Homo sapiens: one gene and its partner. The protein of the gene in region 1 interacts with the protein of each later gene in a pairwise test. Each region holds a gene or a part of one and is shown on either strand. Other genes may lie near its edges. The genes, in order: SGSM1 and CETN3.

Evidence for each region.
Region 2: the proteins of SGSM1 (region 1) and CETN3 interact in binary tests that used the Homo sapiens proteins (3 or more experiments, as listed by UniProt).

The regions. Positions count from the first base shown.
Region 1 is NC_000022.11:24,809,007-24,812,830, forward strand, and holds part of SGSM1 (small G protein signaling modulator 1), read left to right. Parts: intron 1-3,824. UniProt on the Homo sapiens protein: Interacts with numerous Rab family members, functioning as Rab effector for some, and as GTPase activator for others. Promotes GTP hydrolysis by RAB34 and RAB36.
Region 2 is NC_000005.10:90,392,710-90,396,533, reverse strand, and holds part of CETN3 (centrin-3), read left to right. Parts: coding exon of another isoform or gene 1-41; intron 42-2,426; coding exon 2,427-2,470; 3' UTR 2,471-3,824. UniProt on the Homo sapiens protein: Plays a fundamental role in microtubule-organizing center structure and function. As a component of the TREX-2 complex, involved in the export of mRNAs to the cytoplasm through the nuclear pores.

The DNA of each region.
Region 1 (3,824 bases):
ACACTGTGGCCCAGAGACAATAAGTGACATTTCAAGGGCACAGAACCAGTGTGAGGGAACAGGTTCCGTTCTTCTGTCTTTTGAGTTCCTATTCAACATAGGTACCCTAAGAACATGGCAACAACTCGGTGCCCCCCAAAGCACGTCTCCCCTGTCCTTTCCTTCCTTTGCTTACCTCTTTGGGGAGCATCTCTCTCAGTGTCAGAGAGCCAGTCTCTAGTGGAACAGAAGGGAAAGCTCTTTGCCTAGAAATCTGAGAGTCAAATCAGATCTCCCTCCTCCCCACTCTCTGGGTTCAAAGGAGCCACATCTCTGCCTGTCACAGCCTCACCCAGAGACTGCATTGTATGTACACATATCTACATGTGTCTGTGTGTATATCTGTCTTCTGTGTGTACATCTGTTTCCCCAGCCTTCTTTCTAGAAGGAGTGCCTTAACAATCGACATCTCTAGATAGGCTGGGCAGCTCTGCAAGGTTTGCCAGAGCCACTGCAGCCACGAAGGGGCCAACAGAGGCTGGGAGCTGGAAACTGTCCAGTGCTGGCCTGGGGAGCCAGCTGGACACAGCACCCATGAGGCAGGTCAAGAAGAACTTTGGGCTCAACTAGAGCTGGATTCCAACCCCAGATGTGTTTATTTACTGAGGGCTGTGTGTCAGACCCTGGGCTAGGTTCTGTGGATATAGCAGGGACAGGCCCCTTGTAGATGGGCCCTGTCCCTGTCCTCCTGGGGCTGACCTTGCAGCGGAGGAAACACACTCCCAACAGTTACCTTATCAAAATTACAAGGATAATTACAGGCTGTGAACAGAGATGTGAAGGAGAGGCACCCGGGGCTGCAAGAACCCAAAACAGGGACAACTGACCATGTGCAGGGGCCCAGGATATGACGTTTCAGAAGACAGGTGCAAGATGAGTAGGACTTTAAGGTGAAGATAAGAGGGTTGAGAGACACTAAGAAAAACCATTCCTGGCAGAAGGTTTTGTACATGCAGAAGCTTTGTGGCTGGAGGGAACACTGTGAATTTGAAGGAACCGAAGTGACCGGAGCAGAGACAAAGGAGAAAGGTGCAGATGCGGAGAAGGCGGAACATGTGGTCTTATCCCAAAAGCAAGGGAAAGGAATGGGGAGGACATCGAGAACAGGGAAAGAAGGTGATGGAGCTGAAATTGCTGGCCTGTTCACTGCACAATCTTAGACAAGATCTGTCTTTACCTTTATCAGTGTGTGGGTTTCCGTTTATTCATAATGGGGATGAAAATGATTCAGCTGGCAAGATAAACCCTGCGAGAACACCCACCACGTTAGCCTGAGCTCCTCCAGGGCAAGCATCCTTTTTTTTTTTCCCTCTGTCCTCGGTACCACCAAGAGAAAGCTGGAAACAAGGTGGCCTCAGCGTGATTTCCTCCAGTTAAATCTGACCAGCTCTATCTTGGCTCCTTCCTGGCTTCCTTTACCCTCCCTGCCAACCCTTAATTTTGTTTTGGTTCCCAGAGCGAGCAGGGACTGGCTTCCCGTTGCCATAACAACTGCCATTAAAGGAGCCAGCCATGTGATGCCAGTTGATAATGGAAGCAAAGTGACTAACTGCCTTGTTTTCCTGCCTCTGGGCTGGGCCTAGAAAGCCTCTTAATTGGAGGGGAGAATGCAGGGGCTGGTGGGAGGCAGATGAGACCCCAGGAAGGAGACAGGGAGATGAGGCAGGTCCTGGAGTGGAAGCTACATTTAGCTCTGCGACCGGAGCTGGTGGAAGGGCTGTAATTGGGGAGCCATCATCATAGCTGCTGAACAGAGCCTGTTTGGAGAACTGAGCCTCCCAGCCTCTGGGTTAGGGGTGATGAGATGGGAGAGGCAGGCAGGACTTGCTAAGAAGGTTGGAGAAAAACGAGAGAAGCAATTGACGTTACCATGGGGACCCTGCAGTTTTACTGTGACCCAGTGGTTCTTAATGAAGGGGAGCAGTTTTGTCTCCCGTCCCTAGGTTTGGTTGCCAGATAACATCCAGGTCGCCCAGTTAAATTTGACTTTCAGATAAACAGTGAGTAAGTTTTTAGTATGAGTATGTGTTGCTAAATCTGGCAACCCTACTCCAGGGGACATTTGGCAATGTCTGGAAACATTTTTGGTTGTCACAGTTGGGGGTGCTATCAGCATCTAGTGGGAAGAGGCCAGGGATGCTGCTCACATTCCTGCAATACACAAGACACCCCCTCAGCCCACCACCACTAGGAGCACAAAGAAGTGGCCAGCCCAGAATAACTCTTGTTAAGGCAGGAAAATCTGCTCCCCGCTCACCCTACCCATCCTGCACCTGCTGCGCCCTTCACTTCTCTAGGCTAATTTGATACGAATGTACTGTTCTTGAACAACTCATTCTTACTGCTTTTAGATTGTCTTGAATGCATATTTGGAGTCTAAAGCCGGGGTGGGGGTGGGCAGGGGCAGGGAACGAAGTCTTGGCTCCCTAGCCATGTCATTTAGGGGAAACTTCCCCAGAATGCCTCAGTTTCTCACCTGTAAAATGGACTTAGGCCATAGAAGAGAGATTGGACTATGTAATAACATTAGCAATTCCTGGCCGGGCACTGTGGCTCATGCCTGTAATCCCAGCCCTTTGGGAGGCCAAGGTGGGATGATCACTTCAGGCTTGGAGTTTGGGACCAGCCTGGGCAACATAGCAAGACCCCCATCTCTACAGAAAACAAAATAAAAATAGCCAGGCATTGTGGTGCATGCCTGTAGTCACAGCTATTTGAGAGGCTGAGGCAGGAGGATCCCTTGAGCCCAGGAAGTTGAGGCTGCAGTGAGCTGTGATCGCATCACTGCACTTCAGCCAAGGCAACAGAGCGAGACCCTGTCTCAAAAAAAAAAAAAAAAATTATGACCAGGCATGGTGGCTCATGCCTGTAACAGCACTTTGGGAGGCCAAGCTGAGTGGATCACTTGAGGTCAGGAGTTGAAGACCAGCCTGGCCCAACATGGTGAAACCTCATCTCTACAAAAAATACAAAAATTAGCCGGGTGTGGTAGCATGCGCCTGTAATCTCAGCTACTCGGGATGCTGAGGCAGGAGAATCGCTTGAACCCGGGAGGTGGAGGTGGCAGGGAACTGAGATGGCGTCACTGCACTTCAGCCTGGGTGACAAAGCAAGACTCCGTCTCAAAAAAAGAAAAAAAAAAAGAAAAGAAAAATTAGGCATTCCTAATTTCCTACGTGTTTGCTGGGGGCTTCTGGCTTCCTCTGTGCTGGGCATTGTGCCATGAACTTTCTGAGCATTATCCCCTTCACTCCTCATAAAAGCCCTAAGGGAGAGAACCATCATCTCTTTCCATGATAGATGAGGAACTGGAGGCAGAGAGATGTTATGCAGCTCGCTTTAAGGTCCCACTGTCAGTCCGTGGAGAAGTCAGGATTCAAACCTCATGTTGCCAAGATCTAGGGGGATGGCCTCATGACCTTGGCTTACAGTGGGCAGTGGTGGGCAGCTATGAGCTTCAGAAAAGTCCCTGGAAACACAGCTTGGCTTCAGGCATGTGCAGGGGAAGGAAATGGGGCAGGAAAGGTCCATTAGTCCCAGCTTGTGCAGGGCTGTATGTGCCAGGCTGTGCCATTTGAACTTCCCATAGTGGATAATGGGGAGCTATAGAAGATTTATGAGCAAGGGAGGGTTTTGCTTAGGGCTGTACTTCAGGAAGTTTCAGCTAATAGCAGGGACCAGGATAGACAGTTTCTGCCAACTCTTAGAAGAAAACTTTCTCCCTCCCTCTGTTATTTTCTTTCTCCCCCACTTCCGTTCTTCCTTCCTTCCTCCCACAAATATTT
Region 2 (3,824 bases), on another chromosome or scaffold:
GTCTAGATGCCTCAGTCTAAATCGGGAGTTCTTCAGTGAAGGTGCACACTGGCTAAACTGATTAATAATTTTATATATTTGAACTGTATTTATTGGAAAGAGAGAGGGATCATAGCTTTCCTAAGATATTCAGACATGGCTATTTAACTGCAAAGGTTAAAGATCACTACATCAATTTGTAAGATTCTTGAAAGTAGTTTGGAGTATTACAGATTTTGTATTACGTTCTTACCATGTTTGTCATAGTGTTTTGTAGATGTTAAATACTGATTGCATGGCTTCATAGTTCCCTGTCAGCTTCTGGAGGGTGCATTTTTCCTAACTCATAGCTTATTTCTGTGAGGCATACACTATTCTTTCTTTGACTGTATTTCTGATGGTATTCTCCCACCCCAGCTCTCTTTCTACTTCCTTTCCAAATTCTGTATTTTTATTTTAGAGCCCAAGTAATGATTTACCTTTACCTAAATTTTTCTTATTAGTAATAATTTTTACCATTGTGAAGGATTTTTTTTCAACACTGATTTGGTCTTTGTTTTAATAATAAATAGTATTTTGTGTTATAAAACATTTGTTCTGTTTCAAGTATAAAAACTGACTAACATAGTTATCAAAACCGGTTTTCTATGTGGTTTCTAGAACCAGTGCAGTATATATTCTTTTCATTCCCTATGACCATGTTTTATCTCCTCAACATTTTTTAATTGGTTAATTTTTTCTAACTGTTCATTATGAATATTCTCAAACAGAAAAATTGTCAGACTAGTACAATGAACACCATTGTACCTTCTGCCTAGATTTAGTAATTAGTATTTTACCGCATTTGCTTTACCTGTCGTGTGTATATTTTTTTCTCAATCATTTGAAAATAAATTTCATATATCAAGAACTCAGTCTTTAGGCCAGGCACCATGGCCCATGCCTGTAATCCCAGCACTTTGGGAGGCTGAGGCAGGTGGATTGCTTGAGCCCAGGAGTTCAAGACCAGCCTTGGCAACATGGTGAAACCTAATCTCTACCAAAAATACAACGATTAGCCAGTCTCATAACCCGGTCTCTAAATTAATTAATTAATTAATTAAATTTTAATAATAAAACAAAAACTTGATCCTTTAATATTTTAGCATATCCATCTACTAAGAACAAGGATATATCTTTCATAAAGCTATGATACCAATGTTACACTTAAGAAAGTTAACAATAATTTTATAATATCATATAATATCTTTCTCATTTCGGTTTTAATGTATTCCAGAATAGGAAGCCTGGTGTCTGTTTTGATATATTACGCAACACTTATTGTGGTGTTGGCATTCACTAGCCACTTAAAAATGTTTGATTCAATGGAGTATTTTCATATAATACCTTCTATGGTAAATAAGAGTTAAACAATCTAAAACATCATCTCATAGTTCAGTGTTTTCAGATGAAGGAAATGAGATGCAGAGCTGTTCTGTGCAGAGCTGTGACTAGAGACCAGGTCTTAAGTCTCAGTGTAGTTTTCTTTTGGCATTATCAAAATTATCATTCATAATTTATGCATTGTTTAGGTATGTATTAAGTCTTAGGGCTAAATGCTAAATACTTACCAGAAGTATCTTCTGAACATTTTTCTTAATTGATACGTGCGCATATGTCGGGTTTTCAAAATTATATTCTATAAGATTATCTGATTTCTTATTTCTAGGTTGCTGTCTTAAACATTATGTTTTATAAATTGGAGATTCTTACTATATTTATAATTTTGGCAAACTAAAAATTAGTCCTTATCCATGATTATTTTCTGCCTTTACATCTATATAGTTACTGGATTACTTTGGTGATTAAGATTACATCTGTAATCTTTTCAAATTGCCATTTTTATTGATACCTTTGAGGTATGGTGACCTGGTTTTAATTATTCTTTAACATAGGCTTTTAAGTATATAAAAGTTCAAAAAATAATAATTTAACTTCTTTTTATAATTTTATTATATTTTCATTCTTTAGAAATCTAATTTACATGCATGATATGTTCAAGCTTACTTGTAAAGGAAGGATTTGCTAAATGAACTAGTAGAATAAAGATTATAAAGAGGGTTGTTTAAAGAACCTTGAAATGTCAAGCATTTAAAATGTTTTAGCAAGTATGTACAAATATGACTGTGATTGACTTTTTTGGTAACATTATCTTTTCCCCAGTTAATATTATAGAATACTAATTTGTAATGTTTATCACATTATATGTATTTTTGCATCCAAGAAGTTACATTTAATAAACATGTTCCACTTCCTAACAAAGAAGTAAAAGCAAAAAGCCATGTCTTAATGTAATAATTTTGCATAATGTAAAATTTTTTAAATACTTAGTGTAAAATGGTAGTCGTGGATTCTGAAAAAATAAAATGTTTATATTTCTGACTATTTCATTTTCTTTCTTACCACAGTAAACCAAGAGGAGTTCATTGCTATTATGACTGGTGACATTTAAAGAATTACAAGGATAAACACTAAGAATGTTGCAGTTACCATCTTATATTCTATTTTTGTGCCTGGAGCCATGTGAAAAAAACCAACTTAGTTCTTTTATCCTAAAGGACCAAAAATAAGCATCTTATATATCTGTATTTTACTACTGTTAAGTTTCTTTGTATGAACTGTGTTGTTAGTACTCAGATAGTTTAGCTTTGTATTTATAATAGAGCTTTTATATAAAGTTTTAAAAATTGAATGTGTGATATGTGTTCTTTGAAGGTTTTTTAATTTAACATTTATAGTCACTTTTTAGTGCACACATTTTCCAGACTTTCGTTAATAAAATATTTATTTTATTAGAATTTTAAAGTTTGGTAAATTTGTTTTTATTCCTAGTATCTGTTAACCCTCAAGAGTGGATTTCTTAAATCTTCCCTTTATAATTTTACTAGTTTCTGAAACAAAAATTGAAATACAATTAGCAATAGAGTGGCACATTTTTCCATTACCTAACATTTCATCAATTTTGACATTCTATATTTTAATACAAGCTGACTCAATATAAGCCTAATTCCTTTTTTAAGAGTCCTGTCTTTGAGTTTAGAAGGAATAAGTATTGTGCAGATAGACCCATTTATCCTTGTGTATTATGTTTCTTAACTTGGTATCATTGTAAGTATGAAAGTTAATTTTCTTCTGAATATTTCCTTAAACAAATTGAATGAATACAATTTGAATTTTCTAACTTCTTGACTGAGAGATTTAAATTTTGGAATTTTGATTTGTTAAGGTAATTATCACTCAATTACATGTCACAGTGATGAAAATAGAAAACTGTAAGCCACAGAAATAATTTAAGTCTATGTTTTACCTATATGAAGGAACAGTCTGTGATTCACCAGGAAATAGTAGAGACACAGTTTCCAAGTACTGGTGGGCTCTTCTGCCTTGTAGAAGTGTATGTTAGGGGGAAACAAGTGGTTATGGAGATCGATCATAGAAAAAAATAGTACCTATATGGATCCTTCACTCATATCTAGTACTCGGTGTTATGGGCTCTCCCAGGAACGGAATTGAGTTGTCTATTTCAGCAATCTTTCTTTAGAATTCTTGTTTTAAATTTTTAAGTTTAAAGTGTAGTATCATTTGAGGCGCTTTAAATGTTGTGAGCCTTTTAAGAGTATTACATTAAGGGTTGTCCACTAGAAATTTAACACAAAATCAGTAGGGAATACTATAGCAGTAGTGACATTTCAAACAGTTATCTAGGAAGCAAGTGTATATTAAGTCATTCTTGTATTGCTACGAAGAAATACCCAAGACTGCATATTTTATAAAGAAAAGAAGCTTAATTGGCTTACGGTTCTGCA